7 linked regions of the Homo sapiens genome follow. The protein of the gene in region 5 purifies or fractionates together with the protein of the main gene of each other region. This does not show direct contact. Each region holds a gene or a part of one and is shown on either strand. Other genes may lie near its edges.

Evidence for each region.
Region 1: the proteins of C1D (region 5) and UTP15 purify together in Homo sapiens (affinity purification with mass spectrometry; 2 studies listed by BioGRID and IntAct, with this or other methods). This does not show direct contact.
Region 2: the proteins of C1D (region 5) and DIS3L purify together in Homo sapiens (affinity purification with mass spectrometry; one large-scale study listed by BioGRID and IntAct). This does not show direct contact.
Region 3: the proteins of C1D (region 5) and EXOSC7 purify together in Homo sapiens (affinity purification with mass spectrometry; 3 studies listed by BioGRID and IntAct, with this or other methods). This does not show direct contact.
Region 4: the proteins of C1D (region 5) and UTP4 purify together in Homo sapiens (affinity purification with mass spectrometry; one large-scale study listed by BioGRID and IntAct). This does not show direct contact.
Region 6: the proteins of C1D (region 5) and TENT4B purify together in Homo sapiens (co-immunoprecipitation; one large-scale study listed by IntAct). This does not show direct contact.
Region 7: the proteins of C1D (region 5) and WDR75 purify together in Homo sapiens (affinity purification with mass spectrometry; 2 studies listed by BioGRID and IntAct, with this or other methods). This does not show direct contact.

The regions. Positions count from the first base shown.
Region 1 is NC_000005.10:73,568,445-73,572,722, forward strand, and holds part of UTP15 (U3 small nucleolar RNA-associated protein 15 homolog), read left to right. Parts: coding exon 1-160; intron 161-1,052; coding exon 1,053-1,231; intron 1,232-2,141; coding exon 2,142-2,267; intron 2,268-4,044; coding exon 4,045-4,180; intron 4,181-4,278. UniProt on the Homo sapiens protein: Ribosome biogenesis factor. Involved in nucleolar processing of pre-18S ribosomal RNA. Required for optimal pre-ribosomal RNA transcription by RNA polymerase I.
Region 2 is NC_000015.10:66,317,568-66,321,067, reverse strand, and holds part of DIS3L (DIS3-like exonuclease 1), read right to left. Parts: intron 2,620-3,500; coding exon 2,450-2,619; intron 498-2,449; coding exon 336-497; intron 1-335. UniProt on the Homo sapiens protein: Catalytic component of the RNA exosome complex which has 3'->5' exoribonuclease activity and participates in a multitude of cellular RNA processing and degradation events.
Region 3 is NC_000003.12:44,982,352-44,986,629, reverse strand, and holds part of EXOSC7 (exosome complex component RRP42), read right to left. Parts: intron 1-4,278. UniProt on the Homo sapiens protein: Non-catalytic component of the RNA exosome complex which has 3'->5' exoribonuclease activity and participates in a multitude of cellular RNA processing and degradation events.
Region 4 is NC_000016.10:69,138,657-69,142,934, reverse strand, and holds part of UTP4 (U3 small nucleolar RNA-associated protein 4 homolog), read right to left. Parts: intron 3,111-4,278; coding exon 3,021-3,110; intron 793-3,020; exon of another isoform or gene 745-792; coding exon of another isoform or gene 636-744; intron 1-635. UniProt on the Homo sapiens protein: Ribosome biogenesis factor. Involved in nucleolar processing of pre-18S ribosomal RNA. Part of the small subunit (SSU) processome, first precursor of the small eukaryotic ribosomal subunit.
Region 5 is NC_000002.12:68,052,669-68,056,946, forward strand, and holds part of C1D (nuclear nucleic acid-binding protein C1D), read right to left. Parts: intron 470-4,278; exon of another isoform or gene 393-469; intron 1-392. UniProt on the Homo sapiens protein: Plays a role in the recruitment of the RNA exosome complex to pre-rRNA to mediate the 3'-5' end processing of the 5.8S rRNA; this function may include MPHOSPH6.
Region 6 is NC_000016.10:50,155,841-50,160,118, reverse strand, and holds part of TENT4B (terminal nucleotidyltransferase 4B), read right to left. Parts: intron 1-4,278. UniProt on the Homo sapiens protein: Terminal nucleotidyltransferase that catalyzes preferentially the transfer of ATP and GTP on RNA 3' poly(A) tail creating a heterogeneous 3' poly(A) tail leading to mRNAs stabilization by protecting mRNAs from active deadenylation.
Region 7 is NC_000002.12:189,458,105-189,462,382, forward strand, and holds part of WDR75 (WD repeat-containing protein 75), read left to right. Parts: intron 1-648; coding exon 649-768; intron 769-1,231; coding exon 1,232-1,320; intron 1,321-4,278. UniProt on the Homo sapiens protein: Ribosome biogenesis factor. Part of the small subunit (SSU) processome, first precursor of the small eukaryotic ribosomal subunit.

The sequences.
Region 1 (4,278 bases), on a different chromosome or scaffold from region 5:
AAGAACCTATAAAAACCTTTTCTCGATTTAAAGACACAGCATACTGTGCTACTTTTCGACAAGATGGTAGATTGCTTGTGGCTGGCAGTGAAGATGGTGGAGTTCAACTTTTTGATATAAGTGGGAGGGCTCCCCTCAGGCAGTTTGAAGGCCATACAAAGTAAGAGACAGTTGGTTTCTGTGTGTTCTGGTTTTATTTTGTTGTAAGCTCTTTTTTTCTCTGGACTTTGGTTAAAAAGATAGAGATCAGTTTTATGGAGATTATTTGCCTATAGGTACTATATTTCCTGATTGTTCTAAGAGTGCTTAACTTGGGTTCCGTGGTCCAGTTTCATGGGGCTTATGAATTCCCTAGAATTGTATGTGATATTTTAGGAAATACACGTTTATCTAGGGAGCTACTCTGTAGCTTTTGGTTAACTTTAGTGGGGTCTGTGGCCCAGCTGAGATTATGAATTACTGACCTGAAGACAACCTTACAGCTGGTAATGACAGCTCTATAGGCCTGTACTGTCTTAGAGGCTCTTATGTTGAAGTCAAGTAGGAAGGTGGATTTTCTTCTTGAATTTATAGTGTTTTGCCCCTTAATAAATTAAGTGGCCATCACAATTTTATATTATAACTTTGTTTTCAGGATTGCCAATGTCCGTGCTGAAATTTGTTAAAATTTAACAGAAATTTATGTAACATGATTCTATTTAGTGGTAAATCTCTTTAGAGTTTTTTAAAGAACTTTTTGAAATTTTAAAAATTAAAGTGCCTTTGCTTCCATATTCAGCAGCTAAGTGGAATTGTTTATATACTAGAAAATATAATTTTAAGGCTATCCTTTAATTTTTTTTAACTTTACAATATAGGAGTATTTACACTTCTTAATTGGTTTGGGGGCAAACACTTGTAAGTTTTCTCTTTCTTTCATGATTTCCCCCTATGAAGACTCCCTGAAACTCAGCTGCTTTTTTTTTAATCTGAGAAAAAGGAGCATTTTATGTTAGAAGGTATCAGAAAAATAATTTTCTTGCTTTTTAATATACTGACCTTCAATCTTTCAGAGCAGTTCATACAGTAGATTTTACAGCTGACAAATATCACGTGGTCTCTGGGGCTGATGATTATACAGTTAAATTATGGGATATTCCAAACTCCAAAGAAATTTTGACATTTAAAGAACACTCTGATTATGTGAGGTGTGGATGTGCTAGCAAACTTAATCCGGATCTCTTTATAACAGGTTGGTGAACTCTATTCCCTCCTGAAGCAAATAATCTCACGGGGATGTACTTTAATGTTGCTATGGGACTCTTTTGGGATGGAGGGGTTTAAATTTTTTTTATAAAGGAATATGTTTCTGATTAATTCTTCAGTTTTTAAATTAATTTTTATGTATGTATGTTTGCATTTATTTTCAGACAGGGTCTCACTCTGTTGCCCAGGCTGGAGTGCAGTGATGTGACCATAGCTCACTGCATCTGCTACCTCCTGGGCTCAAGTGATCCTCCCACATAAGCCTCCCAAGTAGCTGGGACTACAGGTGCCCACCACCACGTCCAGCTACTTTGTGTATTTTTTTGTAGAGACGGTTTTGCCATGTTGCCCAGGCTGGTCTCGAACTCCTGGGCTCAAGTGATCCACCTACCTCAATTTCCTCCCGGAGGACTGGGATTACAAGTGTGAGCCACCATGCCTGGCTTCCAATTGTTTTTTATTTTCTTATTCTTCTTTTGTTGATTGTTCATGTCTTCCAAATGTGTTTGGAAAAATCAGGCTGTCTTGAAAACATAATAGACTCTCAGAACTGTAATGTATAGTACCCTGCCTCAAGCAGCCAAGAAACAAAGAGTGCAGTTTAGCCTTTGTGGGTGCCTTTACAAAGATTTCCAGATGATTCAGTAGTGACAGTAGTCCAAAGAAAGAAATATTTTAAGATCAGAGCAAGTTAGATTCTGTATAGTATTATGTAGTGCTTCTTCAGACACGATCAGTAGTAGATGGTTTGGAGGTCCTGTGTCTTCATGAATATACATATATGTCTTTTTAAAACTCCATCTAAGCTTTTTTTCCTTTTAAAATTTATATCTGGATACACACAGTTTTTGTTGTTTTAAACAGTCAAACTAAAAATTCAAAAATTGACATTTTAGGATCATATGATCATACTGTGAAGATGTTTGATGCACGAACGAGTGAGAGTGTTCTCTCCGTTGAGCATGGGCAGCCAGTGGAGAGTGTCCTACTTTTCCCCTCTGGAGGTCTTCTGGTGTCAGCAGGTACTTCTTAAAAATAGCTTTCACCAATATTGTTGGTTTTGAATCACGTTTGTTTAAAATCAGTTGCTCTTTGTAATTTATCAGTGTGCATTTGAATTGCATATCTAAGTCTTTGTTCAAACAGTTGATAGGTAGGACTGGCAAGCAGTTATCATTTATTGTGTACCTAATGTGAGCCAGGCACTGTGCTGTTACATATGAACTCTAATGCCCTAGATGATGCTACAAGGTAGTTAGCTTTTTCCCTACTTTACAGCAATGAAATAAAAGTTTTAACTTATTTTTCAAGGCAAAGTGGTAAGTGGCAGATCTGAAATCACAGAACTCGAGAGCTCTGTGTATTTAGCCCTGTGCCATCTTATTTATTTAGCCCTGTGCCATCTTATTTAACCCCAGAAATTTAGCCCTGTGCCATCTTATTTAACCCCAGAAATTTAGCTCTTATGTATTTAGCCCTGTGCCATCTTATTTAACCCCAGAAATTTAGCTCATACTCCTTTTACTCCTACCTAAGAGATCTGCAGCAGCTTTTGAAAATCAGTTATTTGAGATCTAGTAGGCTTGTCTCTTTTTCTGTGACTCTCTTGATTGAAATGCCACTACCCAGCAAATAGCTGCTAGTACTAGAGAAAGGAGATAATGTGGCCTCAAAAGGGGCCTTGGTACATTTTTCAACAAGTTGGGACTGAGATGTTTTTCTCATTTTGCACATATTGCATTTTCATAATTACAGTGGAAGAAGTAAATTGGCTTTTTTCATTTGTAAATAAAGTAAAAATGTGTTCATATTAGAAGAATGTATAGGTAGTATGTATACTTGACAACATATATATTGCTGTGTGTACCTCCTTTTTTTTTTTTTCTTAATTCTAAAATCTGGCTAGAAATTACTCTGTTTTATATTCTTTTCCCCAGTACCTATTTGATTTAAAAATAAGTTGAGGCGGGATGTGGTTGCTCACGCCTGTAATCCTAGCACTTTGGGAGGCTGAGGCAGGCGGATAGCTTGAGTCCAGGAGTTTGAGACCAGCCTGGGCAACATAGCAAGACTCTAAGACTCCATCTTTAATTAAAAAAAGAAAAAAGTTGATAATGTCAGATGTGTCTACTTTTCTTGCTGTTATTCTGACAAATGGAAAAAATATCATGTTGAACAGGGAGAATAGAAAGCTGTGTGCTGATCTCCACTGTGTGTCACTAGCTAATTGTGACCTCGGGCAATCCCTTAAGGTCTCTAGACCTTGAAAATGAGAGGGTTGGACTAGATCAGTGATTTCAACTGTGATCCCTCTTGTGAGGTGCCACATAGGAGTGGAGAGGTGGGAACTGTGAGTTGGGTTCCAACTCCTGTTCCCCAGTCAAGATTTCAGTCTCCCCTTCCATCCCTTTTTCTGTCTTTCCATATTAGACTTTTTTGCTTGATATTTTGCTGCAGATCTACATTATTCACTTCCACTGCTATATAGAATTTCTTTTAAAAAATGATTTTATTATAATTTTCTTAAAATGGACTCTTTCAGTTATACATTTATTTTGCTGGAATTTATGTACACTTCACAAATATTATTTAATGGTCATAACAGTTCTGTGAGGTAGGAACTGTTATTACCAATGACCCAGGAAGTGGTGCATCCAGGATTTTACCAGGCAGCCTGGCCTGGACTCCCTCACTCAGCCTCCATGCTTTGTGGAGTGTCCAGAGAAGAATGCTTTTCAGATCTTTAATATGTTGAATCTGTGGGCAGAATATCCAACTAACGATGATTTCTTTTTATAGGAGGTCGTTATGTTAAAGTCTGGGACATGTTAAAAGGAGGACAATTGCTAGTATCTTTGAAAAATCATCACAAAACCGTGACATGTTTATGTCTAAGCAGCTCTGGACAGAGGTTACTCTCTGGCTCACTGGATAGGTTGGCATTTTAATTTTTTTGTATATTATTATTAGTGTACACCTGTTTACTGCTTGAGGAAATGAGTTATTTCAGCAATATTTGTGATAAGTATACAG
Region 2 (3,500 bases), on a different chromosome or scaffold from region 5:
AGAGTGTGGAGCTCAGTTGGGTCTGTAACTAGGTGTCCTTGTAGTTGCTGGGGATGGATGTATACTGACTATGAGACACTGACATATCATTTTTAAGCCCAGTTGGAAAATATAAAAATTTGAGAGCTATGAGGCTATAGAAAACTAATTCTACACTTGAAGCTGACTTCAGTTTGGTCCAAATATAGAATAAAGAGGATTGAGATTTTTCCATTATCTGTGCCTTCACACAGTGGGTTGTTCCACAGCACAAAGACTTTTCTTTCTTAATGATGAAACAACAACAAAAGCAAAAAGAAAATGTCACTAGATCAAAGCCTTCTGGAAAATCTGACCTGAGCTTCTGAGAAAGGAATAACTGAAATACTGTTTTCCACCAGGATGGTTGCAATTTCCCCTTCCAGATCTCCGATTCTTCCTAAAACACGCACAAAATGTCCATTTGGATACACAGATGTTGACTCCCAGGAATCGATGCGCACGACCACCCTGAAGTCCTGCACAAAAGGAAAAAATAAAACACAGCTGAGCACCAGGAGTTAAGTGGGTCAATTAGAGGCATCAAACAAACAAGAGGCAAACAATACTGGGTTCCAAGGAGAGTGGCCAGGTGCAAATAGTGGTGTATGGTAGGGTTTTTTTTTTGTTTTTCATTCTTCCTATTACTAAATTGCCAGATGGTATGAAATGCTTGACCCAATGCTTTGAAGGGAGGCATTACCTCTCTACATCAATGAAGAGGGCTGGAAATTTTAGTCTGCTGAAGAGAGCCGTAATATATTCTAGTTAACTGTAATATATTCTAGTTAACGCTTGCAACACTAGGGGAAAACTCAATTATGCATGCTCCAAATTAAGTTTTAAAACAACAATCTTAATGTTTTGTGTGTGGGAGGTAGTTCCTAATTTCTTTGAAGTCTATTTTATTTTATTTTATTTTTTTCGAGATGGAGTCTTGCTCTATCAACCAGGCTGGAATGCAGTGGTGCTATCTTGGCTCACTGCAGCCTATGCCTCCCGGGTTCAAGTGATCCTCCTGCCTCAGCCTCTCACATAGCTAGGATTACAAGCGTGTACCACCATGCCCACCTAATTTTTTTTTTTTTTTTTTTTTTAGTAGAAATGGGGTTTCACCATGTTGGCCAGGCTGGTCTTGAACTCCTAGCCTCAAGTGATCCACCTGCCTCGGCCTCCCAAAGTGTTGGGATTACAGGCATGAGCCACTGCGCCTGGTCTCTTTGAAGACCTCTTAAGATGGTCTTTGGTGGAGAAGAAGGTGTCGTGTAAACTGAATCCCCACTACCCCAAAATTCCAGCAAACCATGGGAATGGAAAATGTATTAGGTGCAACTGGCCTGGAGAGCCTGCATAAGGCTTCAAGATGTAAAAGCACAATGGCTAGGTTACTGGCTGGGGACATCCTGCTTTAGTGTCTCATTTACAAACTGTAAAATATCAGGGGGAATTAAATTGGGCAATGCCCATACTTTTTGACACAAGTAAAGGTTAATTTCTAACCTTCTTGTTTATGTCTTCTCTCCAGTGCTATATTCCTTTATGGATAATCAATTCTGTGAAGTACCACTACATCATCCCTACAGGGCAGAGTGATCGTATTTCTATATTGCTTGCTGGAGGAAAGCTTGTTAGTGTTGGCAAAGTGTATCTATAGAAAGTTTCTATGTTGGACAGCTGGATAATGTATGTTCTCTCTGGTTGTCCTACACAGCTCTTTCTAGGACAATTTCTCTCTGGCCTGAATTTATTAACCACAGACTACTTAATGGATGGTTTTCATATATTTAGAATTTTTAAAAAACAGAATCTTGGGGCTGGGCACAGTGGCTCATGCCTGTGATTCCAGCACTTTGGGGAGCCAAGGCAGGAGGACTGCTTGAGGTCAGGAGTTCAAGACCAGCGTGTGCAACAAAGTGAGACCCCATCTCTACAAAAAAAGAATTAAAAAACATAAAAACACGGCTGGGCATGGTAGCTCACACCTGTAATTCCAACACTTTGGGAGGTGGAGGTGGTGGATCATGAGGTCAGGAGTTTGAGACCAGCCTGGCCAACACAGTGAAACCCCATCTCTACTAAAAATACAAAAATTAGCCGGGCGTGGTGGCGGGAGCCTGTAATCCCAGCTACTCGGGAGGCTGAGGCAGGGGAACTGCTTGAACCCGGGAGGTGGAGGTTGCAATGAGCTGAGATCACGCCACTACACTCCAGCCTGGGTGACAGAGTGAGACTCTGTCTTGGAAAAACAAAAGAACAACAACAAAAAAACCCCAAAAAACACATCCCAGTATCTTGGAATGCCAGATGCCATCAATAATTTATTTCTTTATATGCAAAGGAATTAACAATGCTTTCTGGTACTGCTAAAAAGCTGGTAAAGACAGAAGGAGAAAGCGTAGAGATCCCATAGTAGAGGTAGAATGCCAACTACCTGGAGGGTTTCTGCTTGCTGAGTGCTAATTCGAATTTTGGGAATTCTGTAATCCCAAGGTGTAACCAGGATTTTCTGAGCATTTTTGCCCTGAGATTGGACCTCTTCTTTGGACGGAAATGTCACCACATAATCCCGCCAGTTCTTCTGAAGTATGCCCACCACTCGACCTTTGGCAAAACAAAACAAAACAAGGCATTAACTGGTTAGGTGCCATCTATCTGGACTCTGACCACCTCAAGCAGTAAGGAAAAGAACAAGAAATACAGTGTCCTATTTTTTTTCAAGCACATCCACCCAACTCAAGAATGTTTTTGAAAGGAAGCTTTTATTAACAACAATAACGGCCAGGCATGGTGGCTCATGCCTGTAATCCCAGCACTTTGGGAGGCTGGGGCAGGAGGATCACTTGAGGCCAGGAGTTCAAGACCAGCCTGGCTAACATGGTGAAACCCCACCTCTACTAAAAATACAAAAATTAGCTGGGCATGGTGGCGTGCGCCTGTGATCACAGCTGTTTAGGAGGCTAAGGCAGGAGAATCGCCTGAACCTGGGAGGCGGAACTTGCAGTGAGCCGAGATGCACCACTACACTCCAGCCTGGGCAACAGAGTGAGATGCCGTCTCAATAACAAACACATAAACAAAAACCAAAACACACACATAACAACAACAAGAAAAGGTATGTTTGAAGATTTGCCTTCTTGGTATTTTATTTTAAAGATGGATAATTTAAAAACACTTTTTGTTTTTGTTCGTTTCTTTTTTTTTTTTTTTTAAGAAACAGGATCTCACTATGCTGCCCAGGCTAGAGTGCACTGGCTATTCACAGATACTATCATAATATGTTACAGTCTCAAACTCCTGGGCTCAATCCATCCTCCTGGGTAGCTGGGTCTATAGGCACGTGCCATCATACCCAGCAAAGATGGGTAACTTTTAAAATAACATTGTCAGTATGCTCTCTCTTCCTGAGATAACATTTAGAATCCACTTGTCCCATTTTCTCTCTTTTGCCATTATCTTATCAATCTCATTTTGGTATATTGGGA
Region 3 (4,278 bases), on a different chromosome or scaffold from region 5:
GCCCTCGCTTGCTCTCGGCACCTCCTCTGCCTGGGCTCCCACTTTGGCAGCACTTGAGGAGCCCTTCAGCCCGCCGCTGCACTGCGGGAGCCCCTTTCTGGGCTGGCCAAGGTGGGAGCCGGCTCCCTCAGCTTGCTGGGAGGTGTGGAGGGAGAGGCGTGGGTGGGAACCAGGGCTGCGGGCAGTGCTTGCGGGCCAGCGCGAGTTCTGGGTGGGCATGGGCTCAGCGGGTGGGTGTGGGCTAGGCGGGCCCCATACTCTGGAGCAGCCAGCTGGCCCCAGGCAGTGAGGGGCTTAGCACCTGGGCCAGCAGCTGCTGTGCTCAATTTCTTGCTGGGCCTTAGCTGCCTTCCCACGGGGCAGGGCTCCGGATCTGCAGCCTGCCATGCGGGAGCCTCCCCGCCCTCCCACCCCCACCCATGGGTGCTCCTGTGTGGCCCCAACCTCCCCAAGGAGCGCTGCCCCCTGCTCCACGGCGCCCAGTCCCATCGACCACCCAAGGGCTGAGGAATGCGGGTGCATGGCAGGGGACTGGCAGGCAGCTCCACCTGCGGCCCCAGTGCAGGATCCACTGGTTGAAGCCAGCCGGGCTCCTGAGTCTGATGGGGACTTGGAGAACCTCTATGTCTAGCTAAGAGATTGTAAATACACCAATCAGCACTCTGTATCTAGCTACTCTGGTGGGGACTTGGAGAACCTTTGTGTCTACACTCTGTATCTAGCTAATCTACTGGGGAGGTGGAGAACCTTTGTGTCTAGCTCAGGGATTGTAAACGCACCAATCAGCACCCTGTCTAACAGACCACTCGGCTCTCTGTAAAATGGACCAATCAGCAGAATGTGGGTGGGGCCAGATAAGAGAATAAAAGCAAGCTGCCAGAGCCAGCAGTGGCAACCCGCTTGGGTCCCCTTCCACACTGTGGAAGCTTTGTTCTTTCGCTCTTTGCAATAAATCTTGCTACTGCTCACTCTTTGGGTCCACACTGCCTTTATGAGCTGTAACACTCACCGCGAAGGTCTGCAGCTTCACTCCTGAAGCCAGCGAGACCACGAACCCACCTCGGGAGGAATGAACAACTCCAGGTGTGCCGCCTTAAGAGCTGTAACACTCACCATGAAGGTCTGCAGCTTCACTCCTGAGCCAGCGAGACCACGAACCCACCAGAAGGAAGAAACTCCGAGCACATCTGAACATCAGAAGGAACAACTCCGGACACGCCGCCTTTAAGAACTGTAACACTCACCGCGAGGGTCTGCAGCTTCATTCTTGAAATCAGTGAGACCAAGAACCCACCAATTCCAGACACAATATCCCTATCTTGAGTCTGGAGATGGATTCAAAAAGCAACAGAATTTCAAGTCTAAGAGAGTAAGCCTTTAGGATAGAACTCCAGAAGGTGATCCCTCTTCACTGGAAGACCCATAACTATGTAACTGTGTCTCTTCCCAACCTCACCCATAGAACCTGAAGGCTTTCTAGCTCAATCTCTAACACTCCAGCCCTCTCCACCTCCATGTGCCCCACTCCCCAGCTAGGAAAGTGAATACCCAGCCCAGAAAGGTTATTGACAAGAAGTTCTTTGTGGGGTGTAAATATGGTGTAAGTATGAACAATCATTAGGAACATGACTCATGGTTCCAGGCCAGCTCCTGGCACTAACTAGCCACTTGACTTAGGACAAGCCCCTTCCCTCTCTGGATTAGTTTCCTCATTTGTAAAAGATGGAGATTAAATTAGTCTCAAAGTGATTCTCTAATTCTACAGATCTATAAATTAAAATGGCTGTAATTATTTGCAATAAATAATAGCAGCTGCTATTTACTGTGCATTTACTATATACCAGATAATGTGCAAGGAATACTGCAGTTAATGCATTTAATCTTTTCAATAATCCTATACGATAGTGTTATTCATTCCATTTTACAAATGAGAAAACTGAGGTTAAAAGATGTCAAATGAATGGCCCAAGTTCAGACAGCCAGTAAGTAGCACTTAAGCCTCAAGTCAGAGCTCTTAACCGCTATGCTACACAGTCCACTGCATTCTAAAGGATGTCTTCACTTTACAAAAGGACTCAGCAGAGACCTCCTTCACAGGATGAACTGGCTGGCCACAAGGTCACAGGGTTTACTACTGCTGCTTCTTCCTTTTTTTTTTTTTTTGAGACAGGATCTCACTCTGTCACCCAGGCTGTAGTGCAGTGGTGATCACTGCAGCCTCAAACTCCTAGGCTCAAGCAATCCTTCTACCTCAGCCTCCTGAGTAGCTAGGACTACAGGCACATGTCAACATGCCCAGCTAATTTTTATTTTTTACTTTTTGTAGAGATGGGGTCTTGCTATGTTGCCCAAGTTGGTCTCAAACTCCTGGCCTCAAGTGACCCTCCTGCCTTAGCCTCCCAAAGTGCTGGGATTACAGGCATGCGCCACCACATCTGGTCCAACTACTGCTTCTAAAATATCACTTGCTCTGAAAGATTAGTCACACCTCTTTGTAGTGAAAATGTACTTGGTCCAGGAAGGGGCTGGTGGGCTGTCAGAAAACTGAGCCTCATCAGATACTGCTTTTCCAGCCTTTAATTCACTCTCTGCCTCCTGGAGAAAGGCTCAGGTGATAAGTAAAAGATAAATGAAAAGCTACAAATTTTCCTTTCCAAGCATGCATAATTTTTTTCCATATAAAAAAAGGATAGGAGGAAAACAAACCAAAAAAACCAACCTAACCAGTCCATGAATCACTGTACCCAGGGCAACTTTTTTTTTTAAACCCAGTTTTCCTTATAAAAGGCTTAGGAAATTGTCCAAACCTGCCTGGCCTAGCTCAGGGCCTGGTGCCCTACCACAGTTTTTATTTATCTGCAGCAGTCACGAGCAAAGGAATTAATCCATGTGTGAACACTTAAATAGGAGTTACCCTGAAGTAAAAGCTCCATTTTAAAACTCAAGAGATGTCAACAGCATGGAGTGGTGTCCCCTCCTTCTCAGCAGAGGAGACTGATGTGCCTCTAGATCAAGGGCTTCTGGATGCCAGGAAAGCTCTTGGTGACTTTCACAGCTGTTACCCATGTGATCACAACAACCCTACCAGTAGGGTGTGGTGTGGTGGAAACAGCCACCTTCCAAATTATACTTAAATCTCTGTTGTCACATGCCAGTTTTGTGACCTTGACCTAAATAGCTCTAAGCCTGTTTCTTCATCTAGAAAGCAGGGATAACCCCGACCTTACAGAGTTACAAGAGAACAGAAACGTCATAAAGCATTTAAAGGAGTCCTTCAGTGTAACACATAGGAGTCCCCCCAAAGCAGTTCCCTTCCCCTGCTTCTGGGGGCATGCATTAACTCACTGCATCCTCAAAAACAACCCTGAGAGAGGTTACAGATAAGAATGGAGGCACCTAAGTTTCAATCTCCTGTTTGTGACAGAGTGGAAGGACATTTAAGCACAGACCTACTTTCCCTCACACCCAGGAAGCCCAGTCCTATTACTTCTTAATAGAAACTGACAAGTTGGCGCTACCAATCTGACACATCTGGAAGGACTTTAGACTCAAAGTGGTCCTCTGAGGTTATGTTAACCCCTCATTAACTTGCTTTGACTTGTCTAATACTCCAGATTCCTAAAGGAGAAGTGAGACTAAATTCCTTCCCCTACTAGAAGGTGACTGCCCCCCGCCCTTAGGAAAGGGGCCACATTTGGTCCAGCTTTGCAGGCTCGGGCCCATCACACAGCAGGCAAAAGTAGGTGTTGATCCTTGTTTGACTTTCCAACCCTGTTGAGTAGCCAGGCATTCCTCTGAAAGGATATGGCTCCATAACTCTGCATCCTGCAGTGTCTGGGCATAAGGCTTTCTGTGCCATGGGTCTGTAAACAGAAAGGGCAGAGAGCTAAAAATCAAGAGTCCTGAGGGCTGGCTCCAATTCTGTCATGGCCAGACTGAGCAACCGAATACTGACTGCTCAATCTCATAGTTGAAAACCAGGCTGAGGCCCTGATCTCCCTCTTCCATGCTATACCCCTAAACAATGCTTATGATGAAAGCAAGATCCACAGAAAAGAAATGGAAGCCATCAGCTGGGCTACAACTCCCTTCAACAGCCAAGAACATACAATAAAATGGCTTTCACAGGGTTCCAAGAGCCCTGTGGTAGGGTTCGTCAATTGCCATGGCCAGGTCTGAACCTATGAGGGCCAGTTTAATGTCCAGGTCATAGCCATAGCACTCAGTAGGCTGAACCTGGGAAAGCTTTATTGTGCCTAAAGCCCTGTAAAGGCCACA
Region 4 (4,278 bases), on a different chromosome or scaffold from region 5:
CCAAAATGGTTACCTGAAGAGAAGGGGTGTTGGGAGAGCCTAACAGGAAAGGGATAGAAGGTGCAAGGGAGGGAGGAAGGGAGGGAAGAGAATGAGAACAGAAACCCCTTTGGTGGGGTGAAATGGAAAGAGACATTTGGGACATTCACTTAAAGCTGGTCAACTGCACACACACATTACACTCTGCTCTTTTCCAAAATCCCACAGGAAAGGGAGAGATCAGTGACAAAATTTGGGGAACTGGAAAGCAGACAAGTAGTGGCACTGACTTAGCAGAGCCCTGAAACTAAGTCCCAGGTCGGCAGAGAGGAAAGCCAAGAAGCCACCTGATTTATACTATGGAATCCTTGGACTCAGGAATTGGGGACCCCAGATATTCTAGAAAAGGAGTAAGTGGGGCTTCAAAGAGGGATCCGTTAACAGCTGGTAGACCCCTCAGATAGCCATGCCCTGACTAAGAAGGTGGGAAGCTCCCAAAATGCACGTCAGCAGAATACTGGAGACGTTGTCTGAGGAGGGCTATCAGGCAGAAGCAGTATATGAAAACCAGGATTAAGTGAACATTTCTCACTGAATGTTGAGAACACCATTCTTTTTTTTCCCCTTAGAATGCTGATAGCCAGGCCAATACTCACCAGGCAGGAGAATGAAAAACCATTTCTGAGGAACATAACTGACACAAAAGAAAAGATCTGAAGATTCTGGCTTCAGGGCTACCCCAAATAAGCAGTCCAGCCAGATCATTCTTCAGTGAAACCCAAGCTCAGTAAGCCACATGATGCAGTGATGAGATGATCACCAGACATGAGGAAAGCCTTTAACATGAAAGGCAGAGGCCAAACGGACTAACAGAAACAAATAAATGAATAACAGGGAAGAAACAGGCAGAGTGAAAAACACTTGACAATTATTAATAGCCTTAGAGAAGAGTTTCGGGGTGAGGGGAGGGGGGAGGGATAGCATTAGGAGATATACCTAACGCTAAATGACGAGTTAATGGGTGCAGCACACCAGCATGGCACATGTATACATATGTAACTAACCTGCACATTGTGCACATGTACCCTAAAACTTAAAGTATAATAATAATAAAATAAAATAAAATAAAAAAAGAAAGAGAAGAGTTTCTGTATAATGAAACATAAAGAGAATGCTGTAAAAAAGAAGATTCACGAAAAAAAAGAACTCTGGAAATGTCAAAAATGAAAAACTCAATAGAGGATTCAAAGATAAAAAAGACAAACTCTCCCAGAAAGCATAGTAAAAAGACAAAGAAATGAAAAATAAGAGTAAAAGAATTTCCCCCCAGAACTGAAGGACGTGGGTATTGGATTAGAAGAACCTACCAGGTGTCCAGAACAATTAATTGATCCACATACCAAGAAACCTAATTATTACATTTCATAACAGTAAGGATAAAACATCCTAAAAGCTCCTGGGGGAAAAAAAAATAAAACAGGTCCTACACAAAGGGATAACTCTCAGAATGGCAGCTTACTTGCTAATAATACGAGGAGCTGGAAGACAGCGGAGCCAGGGCTTCAGAATTCTAAGGGAAAAGAATTTCCAACCTAGAATTCTTTCTCATGCACTCTTACTCAGGATCCACCAAAGGGTAAACCAAGAAAGTGAATAACACAGAAATGGGAGATCCTATCCGATAGAGAAGCAAAGGAGATCCCGAGAACAATGGAAAAATCAATCAGAGTTTCAGATCTCACAGCTGTGCAGCAGGCCCAGAGTGGCTAAGCCAGATGGGAGTGGGTCAGAAGGCACCGGGAGGGACTTATTCACAAAGATAAAAGTGGAGAAAGAAAATCAGATGGACTTGAACCTAATTTATGCAACTGGAAAAATGTGGGAATGTATCAGTAAGACAGAGAGACAGAGACACTATTAAACAATAAGTATACCGGAAAAGAAAGAAAATTTACTATGTGAGTAGTATATACATAGTCATAATAATGAAAACATCAATTACTAATTTGAACAAAGTTATAATATAACCATACTGGGAGGATCGGGAGGAAGTGTGGATGCCTGTGGCAGACGGTAGAAAAAGAGGGGCAAGTTGCAGAAGTCAGTAAAAAATGGTCTAAAGCTGAAAAATCAAAATGTAGCATAAAAAGCATGCTAGGATCTGCAGTGATAGATACCAAAAGAATCAGCTAAGGGTCACAAGTGGTTGCCTCGAGGAGAGTGAGAGAGATATAGAAGGACTCCCTCTTTTTTGTAATAAGCTTAAGGGATTTTTTTTTTTTGAGACGCAGTTTCACTCTTGTTGTCAGGCTGGAGTGCAATGGGGCGATTCTCCTGCCTCAGCTTCCTGAGTTGATGGGAATACAGGCATGCACCACCACCCCGGCTAATTTTGTATTTTTAGTAGAGACAGGGTTTCTCCATGTTGGTCAGGCTGGTCTTGAACTCCCGACCTCAGGTGATCCACCCACCTCGGCCTCCCAAAGTGCTGGGATTACAGGCATGAGCCACCGCGCCCAGCCAACCTGTTTTATCTCTGCATCTCAGACGGAAATACAGACATGTCCACCTAACAAGTTGAGATCAACCCTATCAATGAAGGATTCTATGAAGCCAATTTTCCAGGCCAAGAACAGAAAATATCATGGTTCTCTGCTTTTCTGATCTCATGTTTCACCAATTATGCTACAAAAATCTTATGTTCCTCAATGACAGAAGCCCATTTTTACCAAGGACTGGGATCTATAAATAGGTAATTCTACTGTTTATAGTACACGAATGTACTAGTTCAGAGTATTTTATTGTGAATTCTTATTACGATGAATGAAAAATACTATATCTTACTGAAGATCCAAGATTCCCCTAAAAGCAGTGGTAGTAATCCAAGAAAGGAGTAAAATTAATTGTGGACATCTCAGAAGATTAATGACATGTTAGGCCATAAAGGTCATGAAACCATGACAAAGGCTCAAGCTTTTGAAAACTCAGAAATGTGAATCTGACAAAACCCACACCCCAAATGAACTGAAAAAAACAATCACCTGATTTGACATCAAACACACTAATGTAGTCTATGGAACCAGCTGCAATGTGGGTACCAGAGGGATGCCAGCTGAGACTCAGGATGCGACCTTGGGAGTTGGACAACAAAAAAAGAAAGTGACATACACATAAATATACGAAGAGTAACTGAGCTCTCTTCCCACAACTATCTCTAGAGTGTTCTACAATCTTAGCTCTCTCATCTATAGTACTCCTTGAAGCACCATTTTATTTATTTATTTATTTATTTATTTATTTATTTATTTATTTATTTTTGAGACGGAGTCTCCTCTGTCGCCCAGGCTGGAGTGCCGCAGTGGGATCTCGGCTCACTGCAACCTCCGCCTCCCAGGTTCAAGTGATTCTCCTGCCTCAGCCTCCCTAGTAGCTGAGATTACAGGCACCTGCCACCATGTCTGGCTAATTTTTGTATTTTTAGTGGAGATGGGGTTTCACCATGTTGGCCACGCTGGTTTCGAACTCCTGACCTCAAGTGATCCACCCGCCTCAGCCTCCCAAAGTACTGGGATTACAGGTGTAAGCCATCGTGCCCAGCTGAGACACCTATTTTCTATTTCATACTTGACAAAATGTATGAGATTTTTAAAAAGCATTGTATTACCTTTGTAATTGAGAAAGAACACCCAGGCCGGGTGCAGTTGCTCATGTCTGTAATCCCACCACTTCAGGAGGCCGAGGTGGGTGGATCACGAGGTCAGGAGGTCAAGACCAGCCTGGCCAACATGGTGAAACCCCGTCTCTACTAAAAACACAAAAACTAGCCGGGCATGGTGGCACGCACCTGTAGTCCCAGCTACTAGGGAGGCTGAGGCAGGAGAATTGCTTGAACCCAGGAGGCAGAGGTTACATTGAGCCAAAATCACGCCACAGCACTTCAGCCTGGGCGACAAAGCAAGACTCCATCTCAGGAAAAAAAAAAAAAAAAAAAAAAAAAGAGCACCCAAGATATATTAAAAACGAAGCAAGAATCTGATTAGCAGAGGATAAGTATTACTAATGGACACAGAGGACATTTGCTATTCTAGAAGATGGGTCACCAAACTGTGGCCCACAGGCCAAATCAGGCCCACTGCTTGTTTTTGTAAATAAAGTTTTTACTGGAGCACAGCCTGCCCATTAGTTTCAGTATCGTCTATGGCTGCTTTTGCACTACACTGACAGAGTTGGCAGACAATGTAGGTTTGGCAAAGCCTAAAATGTTTACTATCTGGTCCTTTACAGAAACAGTCTGCCAAC
Region 5 (4,278 bases):
CTGAGCCACTTGCCTTTTCCCTAACTAAAAAAATAAAGACAAGGGGGACTAAAAAATAAAGGCTCTTCTATTATGAGAAATTCCTCCTAATTCAATTGATTTCTACTAACACTTTATTATAGGCAGCTGCTGAGTATTTATTCCTTCCACAGAAAAAGCGCAGAAATTTCCCTCTGTCCCCTTAGCTACTCTGACCCCAGGATCAAGCAGTGACTCTACGATATCAGCAGCAAACTCTTGAATAGCACTGATTATGTGCCAGGCACTACTCTAAGCATTCCACATGCACTTGTTCATCTAAACCTCACAGATGAATAAACTGAGCCAAAAGAAGTTAAAGAACATGCCTAAAGTTGTACATGTTAAAATTTCCAAAGAAGAAAAGAACTCACCCAGCTCTGCTCCTCACCCTCCTCCGGGGTTCTATAGGTACTCCTTGCCCTTCCACATACTCCTTCTAAAACACTGGCTGCAGAGGTAGAGACAGACGGAGAGGGCATGAGAAAACTTGCTTCTCTTCACCACTCAGTAAGGTGTGGCTGAGACTGAGTACCTGGGTTGCGGGGATGCTGCCCAGTAACCCTAACAGATGTTACTGCCACTCAGTCCTTCCTCTCACTGGTTATACAGAAGCCAAAGTACCGATAGGAGAAAACAAGAGTGCATAGCATCACATACAGAACTGAAGTCATCAGCTACCTCTTTCCTTTAATTCTCCACTTCAGGGTGGCCAATCCAGGCAGAAACCTGGGAGGCACCCCAAATCCAATCAGTCCTGTCAATATGGCTCCCTTAATCTCCTTACACCACAAGCTTTCCTCTATTCTCACTGACTAGATTATTTCAACAGCCTTTGAGTAGTGTCCCTATTATCAATTTTTCTCCACTCCCAGTTTTAGAATATTACAAAATATGCTTTAAACAGTCTGGTCATGGTACTCCTCTGTTTAAAATTCTGCAACAGTTCCCTCCCACATGGAAGACAGTTCCAAACCCCTCAGCGTAGATGCAAGGCCCATTATGATGTGGCCCTTGCTTGTCTGCCTAACCTCATCTTTCATGGCTCCCCTCTTCCAATCCTAGAGCTGTGGCCATGATGGCAGTTTTCCAAATGTGCCGTGCTCTCTCACTCTCAACTTTCACCTGTGTGATTCTCTAAGCCTGAAATGCCCTTCCAACTCCACTTTTTTCAAACGCTGCTTATCTTTGGAGGTAAAAAATAGGTTCCAGTTCGGCCAGTGAAGACTTCTCTGCATGCTCTCCTTCTATGCTCTCTGTCTGGACAAATACAACAACTATAAGCTGTCATGTCACTTAAAACACTATCTCTTAATGTATTTTTATTTACTTGACTTCTCCTTTGACTACATGCTCCTTGAGGGGCTGTGTCATATTCATGTTGTATCCCCAGTGGCTGACACACAAGGTGACTATAACTCTCAATTTGCCCAAGACAGTTCCACCTTACGCCTGTTGTTTCAGCTTGCCATCAACTCAGCTCCTTTCTTTCTCAGAAGTCCCAGTTTGAACAAAAAATTATATGGCTACCCTAAACAATGCAAGTTCTCTGACCCTTACTACCGCTTCCCATCCCATTTAGCTGGAGAACAGAAGCATCAGAGGAGTTACCCTTTGCACCAGTCAGGTTTCAACTAGAGAAGCAGAACCAGTAGGAGATATATATTAAGAGAGTTATGGCAAGAAACTGGTTTACATAGGGCAGGCTATGAAGGGAGGAACTCATGCTGGAACTCTTGGCTACTAGCTGAAACTGCTGTCTACAAGTGGAATTTCTTCTTTTTTGGAAGGAAAACCTCAGCTCTGCTTCTAAAGCCTTTCAACTGATTGAATCAGGCCCACCCAGATGATCTAGAATAATCTCCCTTACTTAATTGATTATGGATTTTAATCATAGCTTCAAAATACTTTCACAGCAACACCTACATTCATGTTTGACTAAATATCTGGGGGCTACAGCCAAACCAAGTTGAAACATTAAAAAGACAATCACAGCCAGGCACCATGGCTCACATCTGTAATTCCAACACTTTGGGAGACTGACAGGAGGATCACTTGAGCCCAGGAGTTCAAGATCAACCTGGGAAACACAGACAGACCCATCTCTAAAAAAAAAAAAAATATTTTTAATTAGCTGGGCGTGATGGCATACACCAGTAGTCCTAGCTACTCAGGAGGCTGAGGTGAGAGAATCACTTGAGTCTAGGAGTTCGAGGCTGCAGTAAGTTATGATTACACTACTGCACTCCAGCCTGGGCAACAGAGCAAGGCCCACATCCTTTCTTTTTTTTTTAAAAAAAAAAAAAAGACTATTGCACTAAGATGCATTCCTAGCATCAAAAATATTGTTGCTCTGACAATACTTTCCCACAACAAGCTTATTTTGATTATCAGGTTCCCAAGTAACAGAACTAGACTTCAAATTCTAGCTAACAAATGTAGAAGAAATGACAACTTAAAAAAGAATCACGACTTTGCAACGCCTAATGAAATTGTAGGTTTAGTCAATGACCACCAACAGATCACTAAAAGTAGGTGAAATGCACATATTATGAACCTCCTGATGTGAGGCAATATAACATACACAGCACCATCTGCAAAGCATTCCCAACTCCCAAAAAAGCTGAATCTGAACAATTAAGCCTACAGAGCTAACTTCCATTTTATAGGAAATCCAAAGGATAGAGGAACAAATTAACACCACAAGAAAGCAAACAAATATGGAGTGAGAAATACAGTACTCTACAGGATAACTGACCAGGTTTCCATAACAAGTCAACAGCATGAAGCAAAAAAAAAAAAGTGGGGGAAGAAAGACAGAGGAAGAAGAGATTTAAGAGATGTAACAACCAAATGAAATACACAGACCTTGTTTGGATCTTGATTCAAATAAACCAAGTGGAAAAAGATAGTTCTGTGAGAAAGAAATCTGAACATGGACAAAGTACTAGATGACACCAACAAATTATTGATAATTCTGTCATCTATGATAATAGCAATACAGTTATATAAGAAAATTTCCCTGTCTTTTGAGGATGCACACTGAAGTATAGAGGGGTAAAATTATGTAACATTTTGAATTTGCTTAAAAAAAAAGTAGCCTCCACAAATTATTACAACTTTGAGAGCAAAGATAAGAACCTATGTACATTATTTCTATAGTGAAATTAGATGGCTAACTCACAAACTAGCTTTTAGAATACAACTCCGTTCATATATAGGAGAATAACTAAAGAGAAGGTGTCGTCTAGAATATTTAAGCAGCTCCATTACATCTCATTTCAATTCCAAATATAACTGGAGTGAGGGAGAGGAAGGTTACTGGGTGCTCACTACATCTGTGATAGTTGCTGAACATATAGTCTCAAATGAAGTTTGTATTACTAACATTTCCAACAAAAGGCTCACATTCTAGAGTGTCTATTTATTTCAAGAGTATCACAAAAATCCTTTTGAGACAGAGTCTTGCTGTCTCGCCCAAGCTGGAGTGCAGTGGCTCAATCTCAGCTCAACGCAACCTCTGCCTCCCAAGTTCAAGCAATTCTCCTGCCTTTTACAGGTGCGTGCCACCATGCCCAGCTAATTTTTGTATTTTTTTAGGAGAGACGGGGTTTCACCATGTTGGCCAGGCTGTCTCGAAATCCTGACCTTGTGATCTGCCCACCTCAGCCTCCCAAAGTGCTGAGATTACAGGTGTGAGCCATCGAGCCCAGCAAATTCCCTTCTTTAAAAAAAAAATCCTAATTTCTTGTATTTTTACCTGGCCCTTAAAAATGCAGGCAAAATAAACAAATAAACAAACACCCAAGACTAATGTCAAATAAAAAACTAAAAAAAGACATATGCAACACAAAGATTTTTTTAAAGCCTCTATGAATCAATTTAACAATAACAAAAAAAGTACACACAACCCAAAAGAAAAATAAACAAGAAAATCAACAGTTCACAAATAATCCAGATGACCAATAAGCATAAAGAAAGCTACTCAGCCTTACTGATAATTAAGGAAACATAAATCGCTAAAATATGATGCCATTTTCATCTGTCAAATAGGGAAAAATTAAAAAGATTAATAGTACTAAAATGGACAAAGGTGAGCTGAGAACAGCCTCCCATTCACTATTAGTCAGGGTATAAATTAGTTTAGCATTTTTGTGAGGTAATCTGCACTATGCTTCAAAATCACATATGTACACATGCTTTGACCTAGCAATTTTACTTCTCAAAGTATATTTTAGCGCAAGATAATGTTTAAGGACT
Region 6 (4,278 bases), on a different chromosome or scaffold from region 5:
AAGACCAGCCTGGCCAACACGGCGAAACCCCGTCTCTACTAAAAATACAAAAATTAGCCGGTGTGGTGGCGGGTGCCTGTAATCCCAGCTACTCAGGAGGCTGAGGCAGGAAAATCACTTGAACCCAGGAGTGTTGAAGTTGCAGTAAGCCAAGATCACGCCACTGCACTCCAGCCTGGGTGGCATAGCAAGACTCCGTCTCAAAAAACAAAAACAAAACAAAACAAAAAAAACAAAGAAAGTTAAGTTAGTTGAACACAGTATACTAAATTTTGAGACATTCTTAAATATGAATTATATTGTTAGTGTACAATCTACACTATAGAAAACCTAATGTCTTCTTAAAAGCGCATGTCAGTACCCAAATCAGTAAAATTCAATAACCTGAAGGTTCTAGTTCACTAAGAATTACTGTGGGCTATATCTGCAAATGCACAGAAATTAAATAGAGCACAAATCACTTGGAAAAAGGCCTCTAAATTCTTTCATATTCAATCTACTTTAATCTGTCTGATTGCTTTGGAGCCCAGCAGTAACACCAATCTCATTGGTAACACTGTGTAGAAATAAGCAGAGAGAGGCCGGGCGCGGTGGCTCATGCCTGTAATCCCAGCACTTTGGGCGGCCGAGGCAGGTAGATCACCTGATGTTGGGAGTTTGACACCAGCCTGACCAACATGGAGAAACCCCATCTCTACTAAAGATACAAAATTAGGCATGGTGGCACATGCCTGTAATCCCAGCTACTTGGGAGGCTGAGGCAGGAGAATTGCTTGAACCCGGGAGTCAGAGGTTGCAATGAGCCAAGATCGCGCCACTGCACTCCAACCTGGGCAACACAAGTGAAACTCCGTCTAAAAAAAAAAAAAAAACAGAAAGAGAGAGAGAGGGAGGGAGCGAGAGCGAGAGAGAGAGAGAAAGAGAAGCAGATATAAGCCCTAATGCAGTGCTGAAAAAAGGCATGAACATCTTGGGCTTACTATGACATGATGAACAATGGGCACTAGAGGATGGCACATACAAGAGGATACTGCCCTACGGCAGTGAAGAGCACTACATCTCAGCCCTCCAAATCTCAGCTCCCCACTAGCAGGTCCACCTATACATCCCCCTACTATCTTCTTACCCAAACCAATAGTCCTTCTGGCCCTTATTTCCAAAAACACCACAAATATTTCCCCAGTCACTCAAGTTCAAAGCTACAGTGTGATTATTAAATCCACTTAAGGAATCTGAATCATCTCCATCCTTACCCTGTAATACCTCTCACATTCATTCTCCCTTCACATCCCCATTCCCACCATCCTAGTTTAAGAAATTGTACCTTAAACCCAAGTTTCCCAACAAGGTCTTGATGTCCCCACAGCCAAATTTGTACTCCAAAACATTGTTTTGAACAAGTCATCCAAGCCTTAAAAAAGCATCTACAGATCTGGCAGTACAGCCAACAGAAACCTATCATGAGCTTGGACAAACACCAAGCACCTTCCAGAAGAAGTTTCTGGACCCAGGGCTCAAGACCAAGTTCTGCAAATTCCCTGTATTTGCTACTTCTTGCCATCCCCTCTTTCTCCATAGTGATAAACAATTAAGTCTTTCAAAAGAAAAGGGTTTATGGCTCGTTTTCATGGACAAGCAGCAGCAGGTGGACAGCATCCTAAACCATGGCCAGTTCTGGAGGGGAGCAAAGCCCAAGAGAATCAGTGGAAGCAACTTAAAACATAAAAGGCCAGGCCAGGCATGGTGGCTCATGCCTGTAATCCTGACACTTTGGGAAGCCAAGGTGGGCAGATCACTTGAGGTCAGAAGTTCGAAACCAGTCTGGCCAACATGGTGAGACCCCATCTCTACTAAAAATACAAAAATTACCTGGGCATGGTGGCGGGCGCCTGTAATCCCAGTTACTCGGGAGGCTGAGGCAGGAGAATTGCTCGAACCTGGGAGACGGAGGTTGCAGTGGGCCAAGATTGTGCCACCACACTCCAGCCTGGGCAAGAGAGCAAGACTCCCTCTCATTAATTCATTCATTCATTCATAATTAAATAAATAAATAAGGCCAGGCATGGTGGCTCACACCTGTAATCCCAACATTTTGCTAGGCGGAGGCGGGAGGATCACTTGGACCAGGAGTTGGAGACCTTCATGGGCAACATGACAAGACCCCATCTTTACAAAAAAAACCAAAATGAGCCAGGCATGGTGGCACTCGCCTGTAGTCCCAACTACTCAGGAGGCTGAGGTGGGAAGTTCACTTCAGCCTGGGAGGCCAAGGCTGCTGTGACCCATGATTATGACACTGCACTCCAGCCTGAGCGACAGAGCAAGACCCTGTCTCAAAAAAAATTAAAAAAATAAATTTAGGCCAGGCACAGTGGCTCACACCTGTAATCCCAGCACACTGGGAGGCCAAGGCATGTGGATGGCTTGAGCCCAGGCAAAGGCTGCAGTGAGCCGAGATCACACCACTGCACTCCAGCCTGGGCAACAGAGCGAGACCCTGTCTCCATAAAATTAAATTAAAATTTAAAAATAATAAAACACAAAATAAAAAAATGTTTTAAAAAGCAAACAAAATCCCTGGTCTGTGGGTACATGAAGAAGTCTGAGATGATGAGCTCAAGAGTTTTATTTTGAAGACTTTAGGATGAAATCCAATATCTTACTCTACATATTAAAGAAATGTCCATGTCATGTGTAAGAGGGAACACATAATAAAAGGAAAGTTAAACATAAGTGGGCTATACCAAGAGCATGAAGTGAGTACCTTTGAGAGTTCAGAGGAGAAACCAAAAACATCAAGGACTTAGGCAATGCAAGAGGTCAGCATTCTAAATAAATCAACCAATTTGGTGGAAGCAGAGAACACAAAAGACAGCTGCGAGAGACTATATAGCTGTCCCATGGTTCTAGTCCATTTTCACATGCTTTCTGGTCTCCTCTCCCCATCTGGACTATCAGTTCAGAGGCCAAGAACCACCACAATGTGTTAACCTATTAGCTAACTATCAGTCACATCTTAAGAATTCAGAAAACAATGGTAACAGTTTTAGTATATTTAATCTCAGAACAGCATAACATCGAGGTGCACTCTGAATTCAGATTTTTTTAAATACCTATATTAAAAATAGAAAAACTTTCTAAAGTTAAGAAATAAGGATACTGGCGAGAATGGTGGCTCATGCCTATAATCCCAGCACTCTGTGAGGCCAAGGTGGGAGGACTGCTTGAGGCCGGTTGAAGACCAGCCTAGGCAACAAATGGAGGCCCCATCTCTACAAAAAGTAAAAATAAAAAAATTAGGCAGGTGTGGTGACATGTGCCTGTAGTCCCAGCTACTCCAGGAAGCTAAGGCAGGAGGATCACTTGAGCCCAAGAGTTAGAGGATACAGTGAGCTATGATCACGTCACTCCACTCCAGCCTAGGCAGCAGAGTGAGACCCAGTCTCAAAAGAAAAAAAAGAAATCAGGATAATGAGGCCGGGCACGGTGGCTCATGCCTGTAATCCCAGTCCTTTGGGAGGCCAAGACGGGCAGATCACCTGAGGTCAGGAGTTCGAGACCAGCCTGACCAACATGAAGAAACCCCGTCTCTACTAAAAATAAAAAATTAGCCAGGCGTGGTGGCAAGCGCCTGTAATCCCAGCTACTCGGGAGGCTGAGGCAGCAGAATCGCTTGAACCTGGGAGGCAGAGGTTGCGGTGAGCTGAGATCGAGCCACTGCACTCCAGCCTGGGCAACAAGAGCGAAACTCCGTCTCAAAAAAAAAAAAAAAATCAGAATACATGAATCAAAGCAAGAATTTCTAAGCACCCAGACACTCTTAACACTCTTGGGAATTGTTTAATGTATTTTTTGAAACTAGGAGGTCTCAGAATTGAACTTTTTTTAATTTAAAAAAAAAATTAACTGCTGACATCCTCTAAGGGAGGAGGCAAAAGAATGGAAAATCTGGTGAAGTGATAAGCAGTTTTTAAAGAGGTTTACAACCAGTTTTTAAACAGTAATCCCTCCGGGAAATGAAAATTCCTCTCCTAATCCCTTTGAGGGCAATATATTTGAATCAGGAACAAGAACATCTTGCTTCTAAGTATAAATATGAACCTTTTAGAGTATCTTCTGCATTAAATAGCAAGTAGAGGAGAGGACAATTTCTAATTTATCAAAAAAAAAATAAGCATCTTGGACTTATATCTTTTGCTAGACACATGCAAAGAGGCTTCAGTAAAATGCAATTAAGGAACTTCAAGGTTTTCGTTGACAGTGATTACCTAACTGGAG
Region 7 (4,278 bases), about 120 Mb from region 5:
TAGAGACGGGGTTTCACCATATTGGTCAGGCTGGTCTTGAATTCCTGACCTCAGGTGATCCACCCGCCTCAGCCTCCGAAAGTGCTGGGATTACAGGCGTGAGCCACTGTGCCCGGCCAATTGCTTTCTTTTTAGTATAATATTGATCCTGACTTCTTCAGAGCCTGAAGATTGACAAGTATTCAGCCAAAGAATAGGAAATAGGCTAGATATTATAACAAGTAGATTGATCCCTTTGGATTTGTCCTTTCAGATGCATTAGCCATTTGTCTCAGATCTAATGTCTCAGGTTTGATTATGCCTCATGCTAAGATGTAGGTTCAATGAGAAATTTGAACAAGCTTTGACCAGGCCAAAAAAAAATCACTAAAATCTTTACTTAAATGTCAGTGGCTTCCATAGATAAATTATTATGGTAGAATATTAGTTACATGAAGTTCATGTTGTATATTGATATATGTTTACAAAATAGAATGCTTGATTCTTGATCAAAATTTTCTTTTTAAAAAAAATCCTGCAGTTATATTTATTGAATTCTGAGCTCTACAATTTTGGTTGCTATTGCTGGGAACTCTCTTTTACTTAACTACATCACCACTTATCAAGAGACTTTAATAATTAAGGGAATTTGTTTTTTTTTTCTCCTAGGTTTACTTTATCATCATCAAGAAATAAGAAGCATGCTAAAAACAATTTTACATGTGTAGCATGTCACCCAACGGAAGACTGCATCGCATCTGGTCACATGGATGGCAAAATTCGTCTTTGGTCAGTTTGCTCATGAAGAGCATGGCGATCATTTATGTACTATTTTACGTTAGTCCTGTAGAACAGGGCTATCTCTGGGTCCCAAGAAACAGCCTCCCTTTCCTTTTTTGTGTGCTTTTCATTTCATACTTACTGTTTTAGAATTTCTAGCCTTGGACTTATAAAGTGAGTGAAACATTTTTTGTTGCCTGTAATCATTTTATTGAAGAAAACTTTTTGTTTGCCTTTCTCCAAAAAGGAAAGACTGACAATAGTGAATATCTAGGAGGGTACCACAGATGGCATATTATTTATAGAAGTCAGTCACTCTGGTTAGAAATAGAAAATGTGCACATTAAGACCAGAAGCCTTTATATTATGATTTAGTATGTTTGGTATATATTATGTTTATTGTATTTGGCATGCCATTGTTTTCCTAACTTAAACCTATGGTCAAAATAAGAGTTTTATCTTTCTCCAATAGGAGGAATTTTTATGATGATAAGAAATATACGTACACATGTTTACATTGGCACCATGATATGGTTATGGATTTGGCTTTTTCAGTGACAGGTAAGTGCGGGTTTAATTATTAAAATGAACTTTTGAAGATATGATTCAAGTGTTTTAATTCACTGTATTTTTAGTTTGGAAGATTTAAAACTGCATGAGCCAAATGAATTCCAAACACTTGTGTGTTACCCCTGTATTTTGGGCTTTGCTCAGCACAATATGCTTTAGGTTTTGAAGCCCTTCAAAGTTCTAAAGTGTACATTTGTGATAAAAATCTCTGTTGTTTACATAAATAACCTATTTAAATTATATGACTTTTTGAAGGTATATCTGTCTACATAACTAAGTGTGTGTGGTCCATAACTGTAGCTTATCAGGTGCAAGTAACTATTCTAACACTACATCCATTATCTGATTTAATCATTGGCCGTAGGAAATGAGTGGCATTATACTCATTTTACAGATAAAGGAAGTAGGATTTGGAGTTGATAATTAACTTGCCTAACATGACATGGTGGGTAGGTGGGTTTGGACCTGGTTCTGATTTTAGAGCTCTTGTTTTTAACTGTTACATGGCCTTATTTGACATTAGCTATTTTAAATTAATCTCCATCATTGTTTCATTTAAGCTGCATGACTTCTGTCACAGCTTTGTGTAGTGTAGCTATAGCGAGTAAAAATACCTTTAAAGTAAAGTGGTCTTCAACAGAAATACAGGGAAGTACATCTTGTCTTTGTTTACTTTTAGCATCCTCACACCCATGTGGTGAGAGTTATGTCAGTTTATTTGACTGGTTCTTTAAGAAAGTTACTACATACTAGAGAAGATTGTGTGCCTAAAAAATGAGAAGCCAGGAAAAGTGATTTTTCTTTCTGCAGGTCTTCCTGGAGACTGACAGGACAAGTCTTAGATGGTACCATATGCTGTGGTATCCTTAGAGTCTTACTTGGGTGTAATGCCCGGAAGCCCCAGGAAATAGGAGACACCTTCAACCCGATTATGGTTTGGGGAGTAATGACTAGTGTATGGAGACAATGTAGGCTGCTCATTTGTATTCTCTACCCTCCTTCCCACTCCACACCCTCAAAATACTAGTGAGTGCTTGGTATCCATATGTATGTGTCTGTATATGTTCCAGGCAGGGGTTTTTTTTTTTTTAGACAAGGTCTCACTTTGTTACCCAAGCTGGAGTGCAGTGGCACCATCTTGGCTCACTGCAACCTCGACTTCCTGGGCTCAAATGGTCCTCCCACCTCAGCCCCCTAAGTAGCTGGGACTACAGGCACGCACCACCACGCCCAGCTAATTATTTGTATTTTTTGTAGAGATGGGGTTTCACCGTGTTGCCAGGCTGGTCTCAAACTCCTGACCTCAGGCGATCCCCCCAGCCTCCACCTCCCAAAGTGCTGGGATTACAGGCGTGAGCTACCGTGCCCGGCCATTATTTGAATTCTTGATATTATATTTCAAGTAGCATGAATATTTTTAAATGAGAAATAATGGTTACAGTACATAGTTGTCAGTGAAATGTCCTTACTGACTGTGTGGGTATGAGTTATTAGAAAAAGAAAAAATAGCTGCGTAAATATAAAAGAAATACAGATTTTAGTTGTTTTTGAGAACTTCATAACTTGAGGCATATATGAACTATATGCACAATGTATCATATATGTGTATATATCAGATTAAACTTCTTAATTTTGTTTGTGTACATCACAACTACATACCTTTAGTCTTCTGTTTAGCTAGATTTTATCAGCTTGCAGCTTTAGAAAATTTGATAAAAACCCCATTATAAACCAGTGATCTTTAAAACCAGTTGTTTTAGATTCATGAAAGAATGAAAAATGGTTATTTGATGGAATACTTTTGAGAAAACAGTCTGAAACAGTGTCCTATTTATCCATTTAGTCATTAAGGTAGTCTTTTGCAGGCTTTTGTTAGTTTTCAAACCATTAGATTTAATTGGCCACATTTGACTGGTGGCTACCGTGTTGACAATACAGCTGTTGCTATATTTGAGGAGAATTGATGTTTTTATAGTATTGAGTATTTTAATTTGTAATCATAATAAATACTTTTCCACTTTTTAGGTCTTTATATCCATGAGTTAGGATTTTTTTTCTGTGGTTCTCATATATATTTTTCACTAGACATTTGATGGTCTTTTGATAGTATGTTTTACTCTATATTCTAATTGACTTGCTAGTATTTAAAAATAAAATTGATTGTTATATATTTCTCTTATAATCAGCTAAATTTACTTATTCCATAAGTTTATCTATAAACTATTTTGGCTATGCCTTGGTGTAGTCATGCTGTCTGTGAACATGGAAGTGATTATTTCCTTCTTTCCAATCCTTAAGCCTTTCTGGTTTCATTTCAGTGCACTAGACATCCAGTTAACGTTGAATCAAAATGGTAATAATATTCTTAATCACAAAGGGAAAGTTTTCAATAGTTTAACTTTTAGTGTGGTGTTTGCTATAGATGTTATCCAGGTACTCTTGATGAGATTCAAAGGGTCCCATCCATTCCTGAGTTTCTGAGAGGTATTATCATGAATACGTATAGAATTCTGTCATTTGCTTTTTCTGCATCTATTCAAATAATCATGGTGTTTTCCTTTTGTTCTGTAAGTGGGGTTACATTAATTTATTTTTCAGCTGTTAAGGTAATCTCATTCTTGCAGTAAACTGCGATGACATGATACCCTTTAATATATCATTGGTATAGTATTTTGCTTAAGAATTTTCATCTGTCGTGAAATCGGCTTTTTTTTATATATATATAATATTTTTGGTATAGTATTTAAATGTTTAGAAAAATTTATCAGTGAAGCTATCTTGGCCTAAAGGATATTTGTTTGTCCAGCTTTTCTAGTTGTCAACAGAGGAGTTGGTCAGCAACAAACTAATCAGATATCACTGGAAAAAAAATTCCTGAACCAGTGATCATTTGTCTTCAGAGTATATTAAAAGATACGAAGACACTTTTTGTAGCTTTAAATGAGTTTA